2 linked regions of the Homo sapiens genome follow. The protein of the gene in region 1 interacts with the protein of each later gene in a biochemical or structural test. Each region holds a gene or a part of one and is shown on either strand. Other genes may lie near its edges.

Region 1 (3,808 bases):
CCCAGCCCAGCCCATCAGTGCAGACATTGCCTCCCGCCTGCTGAGGTGAGGGGAGTGTTGGGGACCAGAAGAGGAGGAAGCAGAGAGAGGAAGGCTGCAGCGAGGCCACAGGGTGATTGTGGGTGAACTAGAAAAAGGTGACTCTTGTTTAAGCCTGCAGTGAGCCATGACTACACCACTGCACTCCAGCCTGGGAGACAGAGAGACCCTGACCTTTTTTTTTTTTTGAGATGGAGTCTTGCTCTGTCTTCCAGGCTGGAGTGCAGTGGTGCAATCTTGGCTCACTGCAACCTCCACCTCCCGGGTTCAAGTGATTCTTCTGCCTCAGACTCCAGAGTATCTAGGATTACAGGTGCCCCCCCACCACGCCCGGCTAATTTTTGTATTTTTAGTAGAGGGTTTCACCATGTTGGCCAGACTGGTCTCGAACTCCTGACCTAGTGATCCGCCCATCTCGGCCTCCCAAAATGCTGGGATTACAGGTGTGAGCCACCATGCCTGGCCGGGACCCTGACTCTTTAAAAAAAAAAAAAAAAAAAAAAAAAGTGACTCTTCTGGATGGACACAGCCTTTCTCCAGGGTCTACTGTCTGGCAACTAAAGTTCCCACTGGATTGCACACCTACCTCAGCTGAGAACCATCCAAGGCAGCCCTGACTGCACTGCCCTACCCAGGCAGCGTCCAGAGGCAGCGATCTGGAGCCAGAAAGGGTGGGAGGGAAAGAAATAAGGAAAAGAGTGATTTGGACTCTTCTGGGTCTCTCTACAACTTCCCCCTTTCTGCCTTCCTCCTCTCCAGGAAGCTCAAAGGCCCTGTGGCCCCCCAAGAATGGCAGGGGAGCCTCCTAGGCTCCCCTTATCACCTGGGCCCCGGGCCACGACTGCGGCTAGTGGTCAACAATCACAGGACCTCCACCCCCATCAACAACATCTTCGGCTGCATCGAAGGCCGCTCAGAGCCAGGTATGCTGTGTGTCCAGTATCACTCACAGCTGGTGGTGGGCTGGGGGAATTTCTGCCCATACACCCTGGCAAGATAGGGGGCTGGTGCAGGAGGCCCCAAGAGGGGACAGGAGTGGTGCCCAGAGGAGGGAAGCTGGCAAGTTGAGGCTGAACTGGGTCTGATGGTGGCAGCAGTGAACAGACCTCACCTTCCAGCCTGTCTAGTGATGGAATGGGGGTTGTTGCCCAGTAGTGAGCTCCCCAGCACTGGAAGTGAGTAAGCCTAAGTTGGATGATGTTGTAATAGAAACTCAAGCATGGGCCGGGTGTGGTGGCTCACGCCTGTAATCCCAGCACTTTGGGAGGCCCAGGCAGGTGGATCACTTGAGGTCAGGAGTTTGAGACCAGCTTGGCTAACATGGTGAAACCCCGTCTCTACTAAAAATACAAACATTAGCTGGGCCCGGTGGCATGCATCTGTAATTCCAGCTATTCCGGAGGCTCGGACAGGAGAATCACTTGAACCCAGGAGGTGGAGGCTGCTGTGAGCCGAGATTGTGCCATTGCACTCCAGCCTGGGCAACAGAGCAAGACTTTGTCTCAAGAAAAAGAAAAAAAAGAGAAAGAAAGAAAGAGAGAAAGAGAAAGAAAAAAAGAAAGAAAGAGAGAGAGAGAAAGGAAGGAAGGAAGGAAGGAAGGAAGGAAGACTCAAGCATGAAAGAAAGATCAGATCAGATTAGATAGAAGCATAGATGGCCCTTTCAAGCATAGCTAGATGTGGATGGCAGTGGAGAATTAAAATAAGTAATTGACAGATGGGGCAACAAAGCCAAGACTTCACAAAAAATTTAAAAATAAGAGAAATTGGCTGGGTGCGGTGGCTCACGCCTGTAATCCCAGCACTTTGGAAGGCCGAGGTGGGCGGATCATGAGGTCAGGAGATCGAGACCATCCTGGCTAACATGGTGAAACCCTGTCTACTAAAAATACAAAAAAATTAGCTGGGCATGGTGGCAGGCGCCTGTACTCCCAGCTACTCAGGAGGCTGAGGCAGGAGAATGGCGTGAACCCGGGAGGTGGAGCTTGCCGTGAGCCAAGATCGTGCCACTGCACTCCAGCCTGGGCAACAGAGCGAGACTCCAAAAAATAAATTAAATAAATAAATAAGTAAGTAAGTAAAAGAAATTAGCCGAGCATGGTGGCACACATCTGTGGTCCCAGCTACTTGGGAGGCTCAGGCAGGAGGATGGCTTGAGCCAGGGAGTTTGAAGCTGCAGTGAGCTATGATCACACCACTGCACACTCCAGCCTGGGTGACAGAAACCTTGTAAGTCCAGAATGACCTCAGGCACCCAGCTGAAGGAGCACACCATCCAGGAAGGGCCAAGTGGGGAGGGGCGCCCTCTTTAGGGACTGGAGGGACTGCAGGGCTAGGGTTGCCGGAATTGTGATGGGCTGAGAGACACAGGCAGATGGAGGATGCCCCCAGGGTGCAGGGTGCAGTGTCAGAAGTGGGTCCCAAACATCCCCTCCCCAGATCACTACGTTGTCATCGGGGCCCAGAGGGATGCATGGGGCCCAGGAGCAGCTAAATCCGCTGTGGGGACGGCTATACTCCTGGAGCTGGTGCGGACCTTTTCCTCCATGGTGAGCAACGGTAAGGTCAGGGCCAGGGCCTGGGCCTGGGCTAGGCAGCGGTGGGCCTGTGGCCCGAGGAGGATAGGGCAGAGAGGCAGTGAGGGACACAGACTGGCCAGTGGTCACTTGGACCTCGGCATCCACATTGTACCTGAGTGGCCCTGGGCCAGTCACTTCACCTCTATTTCGTCACCTAAAAATGAAAGTGAGGCCGGGTGCGGTAGCTCACGCCTGTAGTCCCAGCACTTTGGGAGGCCGAGGCAGATGGATCACCTGAGGTCAGGAGTTTGAGACCAGCCTAGCCAACATGGTGAAACCCTCTACTAAAAATACAAAAATTAGCCAGGCGTGGTGGAGGGCGCCTGTAATCCCAGCTACTAGGGAGGCTGAGGCAGGAGAATCGCTTGAACCTGGGAGGCGGAGTTTGCAGTAAGCCGAGATCGCACCACTGCACTCCAGCCTGGGCAACAGAATGAGCCTCCTTCTAAAAAAAAGAAAGAAAAGAAAAGAAAAAAAGTGACATGAATGATAATCATAGTCCATGGGTCTGTGTCAAGATTAAGCATGTTGGGCTGGACGTGATGGCTCATGCCTGTAATCCCAGCACTTTGGGAGGCCAACACAGGAGAATCGCTGGAGACCAGGAATTCAAAACCAGCCTGGGCAACATAGGGAGACTGCATCTCTACAAAAGTTTTTTAAAAATTGGCTGGACTTAGTGGTGCATGCCTGTAATCCCAGCTACTTGGGAGGCTGAGGCAAGAGGATGACTTGAACCTGAGAGGTCAAGGCTACATTGAGCCATGATTGCACCACTGCACTCCAGCCTGGGCGAGAGAGTGAGATCCTGTCTCAGAGAGAGAGACAGAGAAACAGAGACCCTGGGGGACCAGGACAGAAGAAGACAAGGGGAGGGTCTTTGCTTGGCCCCTGCTAAGCCTGTCCTCCTTCCCCTCTGTCCCCAGGCTTCCGGCCCCGCAGAAGTCTCCTCTTCATCAGCTGGGACGGTGGTGACTTTGGAAGCGTGGGCTCCACGGAGTGGCTAGAGGTGATACGGGGTCCCGGGCAGGTCGTTAGGCATTGGGGAGAGGTGGGGGTGGGGGGTTCCCACTCCACACTGGTCACCCACCCACAGGGCTACCTCAGCGTGCTGCACCTCAAAGCCGTAGTGTACGTGAGCCTGGACAACGCAGTGCTGGGTGAGCTGGGGCAGTGCCACCACCTGGCCC
Region 2 (4,287 bases), on another chromosome or scaffold:
CTACTAGTAAGCTGCTGCAATTGCTTTATTGATGAAGGCCTGGACCAGAACAACAATGCTAATAAACAAGAGAGGATGGATATTTAGAATTATGAATTCAAACCATCTGACATAAGAAGTGAGAGATCAGGTGTCCTCAAGGTTGGCTCCCACGCATAGTCGGCTGCTGGTGGCATTCATCAACACAAATGTAAGCTGAACAGGTTTGAGGAAGACGGAAGAATGTCCGGGCTATTTCGGACATACTTTTGATAAACCACGCACGTGGAAATGCCAAGCAGGCAGTGGGATACGTGGGTCTGAAGCTAAAAAAGGAAGTCTGTACTAGCTATATTATAGATCCAAGAGTCACCAGTAATTGCTCAAGCCCGTGATATGGAGGAAACTACCCAGCTGAGTAAAAGATGCTGCAGAGGGGAGACTGACATGGTACTCCAAAGCAGCAGGACGAAGACCGAACCATATAACTGCCACGTGTGAAAGCTAATTCACCCTTTCAGAGAGACTGGGGCTAGTGAGCCCTGATGGGGATTGCAAAGGGAGCAGTTAGCACGCGAAGGGAGGTAGGTGATACCTAATCACTCGCTGGATGACATTCCGGTAGCGCAGCCTATCAGCTTGAATGTGAGGATTGCACAGAGCCTTCTTCAGCTCCTTCACCACGTCCTCGGAGCCAAGGTACGGCATCTTCCTAAGAGTCACAGGGCAGCTCCCACAGCTCCCACGGTAACTCGAGGGCTCCTTCTCGTCCTGATGTGGGAGCCTGAGTAAAGGAAATATGAGTCAGTGAAAATACAAAAGGCGAGATCTCGCCTCAGGCTCGGCTTCCGTAGGGCCGGCACGCTGGCCCTGACACACTTCCACGCCCTCCGCGACACCGCGAGCCCCACCCTAGGCTCTTCAGGCCCTACCGTCGGCCGGCAGGCCGTTCGCCCCGCCCACAGATCGCTCCCGCTACTTCTAGGTCCTCCGCCGGATTTCCAGCGCCGCGTCCGACTGACCGCAGACCCCTCCCTCTCCAGTTCCAGCCTTAATTCCCCCTCCACGCCGTTCTCATCGCGGATAGGCCCAATCTTGCTTTCTGCGGAAGTCCCGCCCCCTTGTCAAGAGACCAAACAGAAGACCGCTGCCGGTCTCCCCGCGAGCGAGCGCTAAGCGTAGTCCCGACTCCGACCTTAGGATGCCCTTCCCCCAACCTCTCACTCTCCAGGCGCAGCTGCGCGGCTCCCTCTGGTGGAGCTGCGGCGGGCAATCGGAAATCGGCTACTTTGGCCTGTCTCCTCCCTGCAGCGCGCGCTTTGAGTGCCCGGCTCGGCCTCCGCTCCCGCGCGGTTGGGAGTGTCCAGCGCCCTCCGCGATTTGGGCTCCAGCGGGCAGGGTGACTTCCTTTTTCTGCCCACTCTGGTAACTTATTGCTCTGCTGGGCTCTTTCCCTTAGGGTCTCTGGCCCTGTTCTTGCCCCAGCATGACTTTTATCGGGACGCCGTTGTGGAAGCCTCACGCAGGAGCCCTGCCCCCGTGGAGAAGATCCCACTGGTGACTCCAACCCTACCACCATGAATGGGGTCCTGATCCCCCATACGCCCATCGCAGTGGACTTCTGGAGCCTGCGCCGGGCTGGCACCGCACGTCTCTTCTTCTTGTCTCACATGCACTCGGACCACACCGTGGGCCTGTCTAGCACCTGGGCCCGGCCCCTCTACTGCTCCCCAATTACAGCCCACCTCTTGCATCGTCACCTACAGGTATGGGGCTGGAGTCGGTCTCCGAGAGCTGGTCCAGGCATCTGGGTTGGGACTTCAACCTGTCATTCTTGGAGTCATAGAATGGGGGCCACGAAAACTGATTTGGAAGTTGTTTGAACCCAAAAATGCATCTTTAACCCAGAATAGGAACGTGTTTTCGAAGTGACCAACTTGAGATAGTTAGCCATAAGTTGAGGAGATATTTTAATCCAGCCAAGGAAACTATTCCTACCTTTATAAGTAAGCTAGGCCGATGTTTCCCAAACTTGCCTTTTTTTTTTTTTTTTTTTTTTTTTTTTGAGACGGAGTCTCGCTCTGTTGCCCAGGCTGGAGTGCAGTGGCGCAATCTCGGCTCACTGCAGCCTCCGCCTCCCGGGTTCAAGCGATTCTCCTGTCTCGGCCTCCTGAGTAGCTGAGATTACAGGCGCACGCCACCACGCCCAGCTAATTTTTTGTATTTTTTGTGGAGACGGGGTTTCACCATGTTGGCCAGGCTGTTCTCTAACTCCTGACCTTAAGTGATCCGCCCGCCTCAGCCTCCCCAAGTGCTGGGATTACAAGCGTGAGCCACCACGCCCCGCCTAAACTTGCCTCATCTTAAGAATCCACCTAATGTGCTGGGTGGTTCTCCAGCTCTCTCCCCACCCCACCCTTAAGTCTCCAAGAGATTAAGATCAGGAGTAAGTTTGGGAATTGCTGACTAGACTGTTTGCTGAACTCTTTTTTTTTTTTTGAGATGGAGTCTCGCTCTGTCGCCCAGGCTGGAGTGCAGTGGCGCAAACTCGGCTCACTGCAAGCTCCGCCTCCCGGGTTCACGCCATTCTCCTGCCTCAGCCTCCCGAGTAGCTGGGACTACAGGCGCCCGCCACCACGCCTGGCTAATTTTTTTTGTATTTTTTAGTAGAGACGGGGTTTCACCGTGTTAGCCAGGATGGTCTCGATCTCCTGACCTCGTGATCCACCCGCCTCAGCCTCCCAAAGTGCTGGGATTACAGGCGTGAGCCACCACGCCCGGCCAGCTGAACTCTTAAATTGTACAAAGGGTGGGATGGGAAGTGGAAGGAGGAAGGGCAGATTGCTTGGGAATCCCCATTACAGCTTCTGCTCCCGGTGGCTCAGGATTTGGTCAGCTTTCCTGATTCATGTAAGGGATAGTCCCTGACCCGGGGAGGTAACGGAGAGGAGTCAGTGGTCACTGGGATGACTAACTGTTTTCTCAGGTATCTAAGCAATGGATCCAAGCCCTGGAGGTTGGTGAGAGCCATGTATTACCCCTAGATGAAATTGGACAAGAGACCATGACCGTAACCCTCCTCGATGCCAATCACTGTCCTGGTTCTGTCATGTTTCTCTTTGAAGGATATTTTGGAACCATCCTCTACACAGGTGGGCCTCTCAAGGAATCCCAGTGACTTCTCCAGACTAGATGTTTTTTTTTTTTTTTTTTTTTTTTTTTTTTAATGTATAGACTGGGGCCTCGCAGTGTTGCCGAGGCTGGTCTCAAACTCCTGACCTCAAGCAATCCTCCCGCTTCAGCCTCCACAGTAGCTAGGATTATTGGCACAAGCCACCACACCTGGCAGACTTTTCTTGAGCAGCCTTAACTCAATAGAAGTCTGGAGGCGCTGGAGGCCTTCTAACTTCATCACATATGAGCATAGTGACCCCATCTCAACTGATTTCCCACTGTTTTTTTTTCCTTCTTCTTTTTGAGACGGAGTTTCACTCTTGTCACCCAGGCTGGAGTGCAGTGGCGTGATTGTGGCTCACTGCAACCTCCGCCTTCTGGGTTCAAGTGATTCTCTTGCCTCAGCCTCCCAAGTAGCTGGGATGACAGGCGCCTGCCACCACGCCCAGCTAATTTTCGTATTTACTATTAGTAGAGACGGGGTTTCACCATGTTGGCCAGGCTGGTCTCGAACTCCTGACCTCAGGTGATCCACCTGGCTCGGCCCCCCAAAGTGCTGGGATTACAGGTGTGAGCCACTGCGCCTGGCCGATTTCCCACTCTTTAAGGGTCCGAACCTTGTGAAGAGTAATTGAAAAATAGGAGTAGGATGGAGACATTACAACAAAGAAACCATGCAGCTATACTGCCTAGTTCAGTGCCAGGCTACATAATAGTTTTTTCACAGACTAGTAAGCAAACGCCTGTCTATTGTTGGAGGTAGGAGAGGCTTGTCTTCTATTCTTTTGTCTCTGACCTTCTGCCCCCATGTACATATTCCTCCAGGTGATTTTCGATACACACCATCCATGCTAAAGGAGCCAGCCCTGACACTGGGGAAACAGATCCATACTTTATACCTAGACAACACCAATTGCAATCCAGCCCTGGTTCTTCCTTCCCGACAAGAAGCTGCCCACCAGATTGTCCAGCTCATTCGAAAACACCCACAACATAACATAAAGATTGGTGAGTTGTTTCCTTTCAGTTTCCTGTCACCTGTAGATAGTGAACTAGATTCTTTAAGGATTCTCACATCTTTCAGATCTTTGTGCAGTTCTCACTTTCTCCTACACTGACCACCTTATTTAAAAT

Evidence for each region.
Region 2: the proteins of TFR2 (region 1) and DCLRE1B are reported together in a solved structure, tested with the Homo sapiens proteins (one study listed by BioGRID).

The regions. Positions count from the first base shown.
Region 1 is NC_000007.14:100,628,043-100,631,850, reverse strand, and holds part of TFR2 (transferrin receptor protein 2), read left to right. Parts: coding exon 1-45; intron 46-625; exon of another isoform or gene 626-695; intron 696-798; coding exon 799-962; intron 963-2,478; coding exon 2,479-2,598; intron 2,599-3,544; coding exon 3,545-3,627; intron 3,628-3,714; coding exon 3,715-3,778; intron 3,779-3,808. UniProt on the Homo sapiens protein: Mediates cellular uptake of transferrin-bound iron in a non-iron dependent manner. May be involved in iron metabolism, hepatocyte function and erythrocyte differentiation.
Region 2 is NC_000001.11:113,904,031-113,908,317, forward strand, and holds the start of DCLRE1B (5' exonuclease Apollo), read left to right. Parts: upstream 1-1,295; 5' UTR 1,296-1,556; coding exon 1,557-1,745; intron 1,746-2,965; coding exon 2,966-3,131; intron 3,132-3,978; coding exon 3,979-4,161; intron 4,162-4,287. Other genes in the region: AP4B1 (AP-4 complex subunit beta-1), read right to left, coding at 575-687.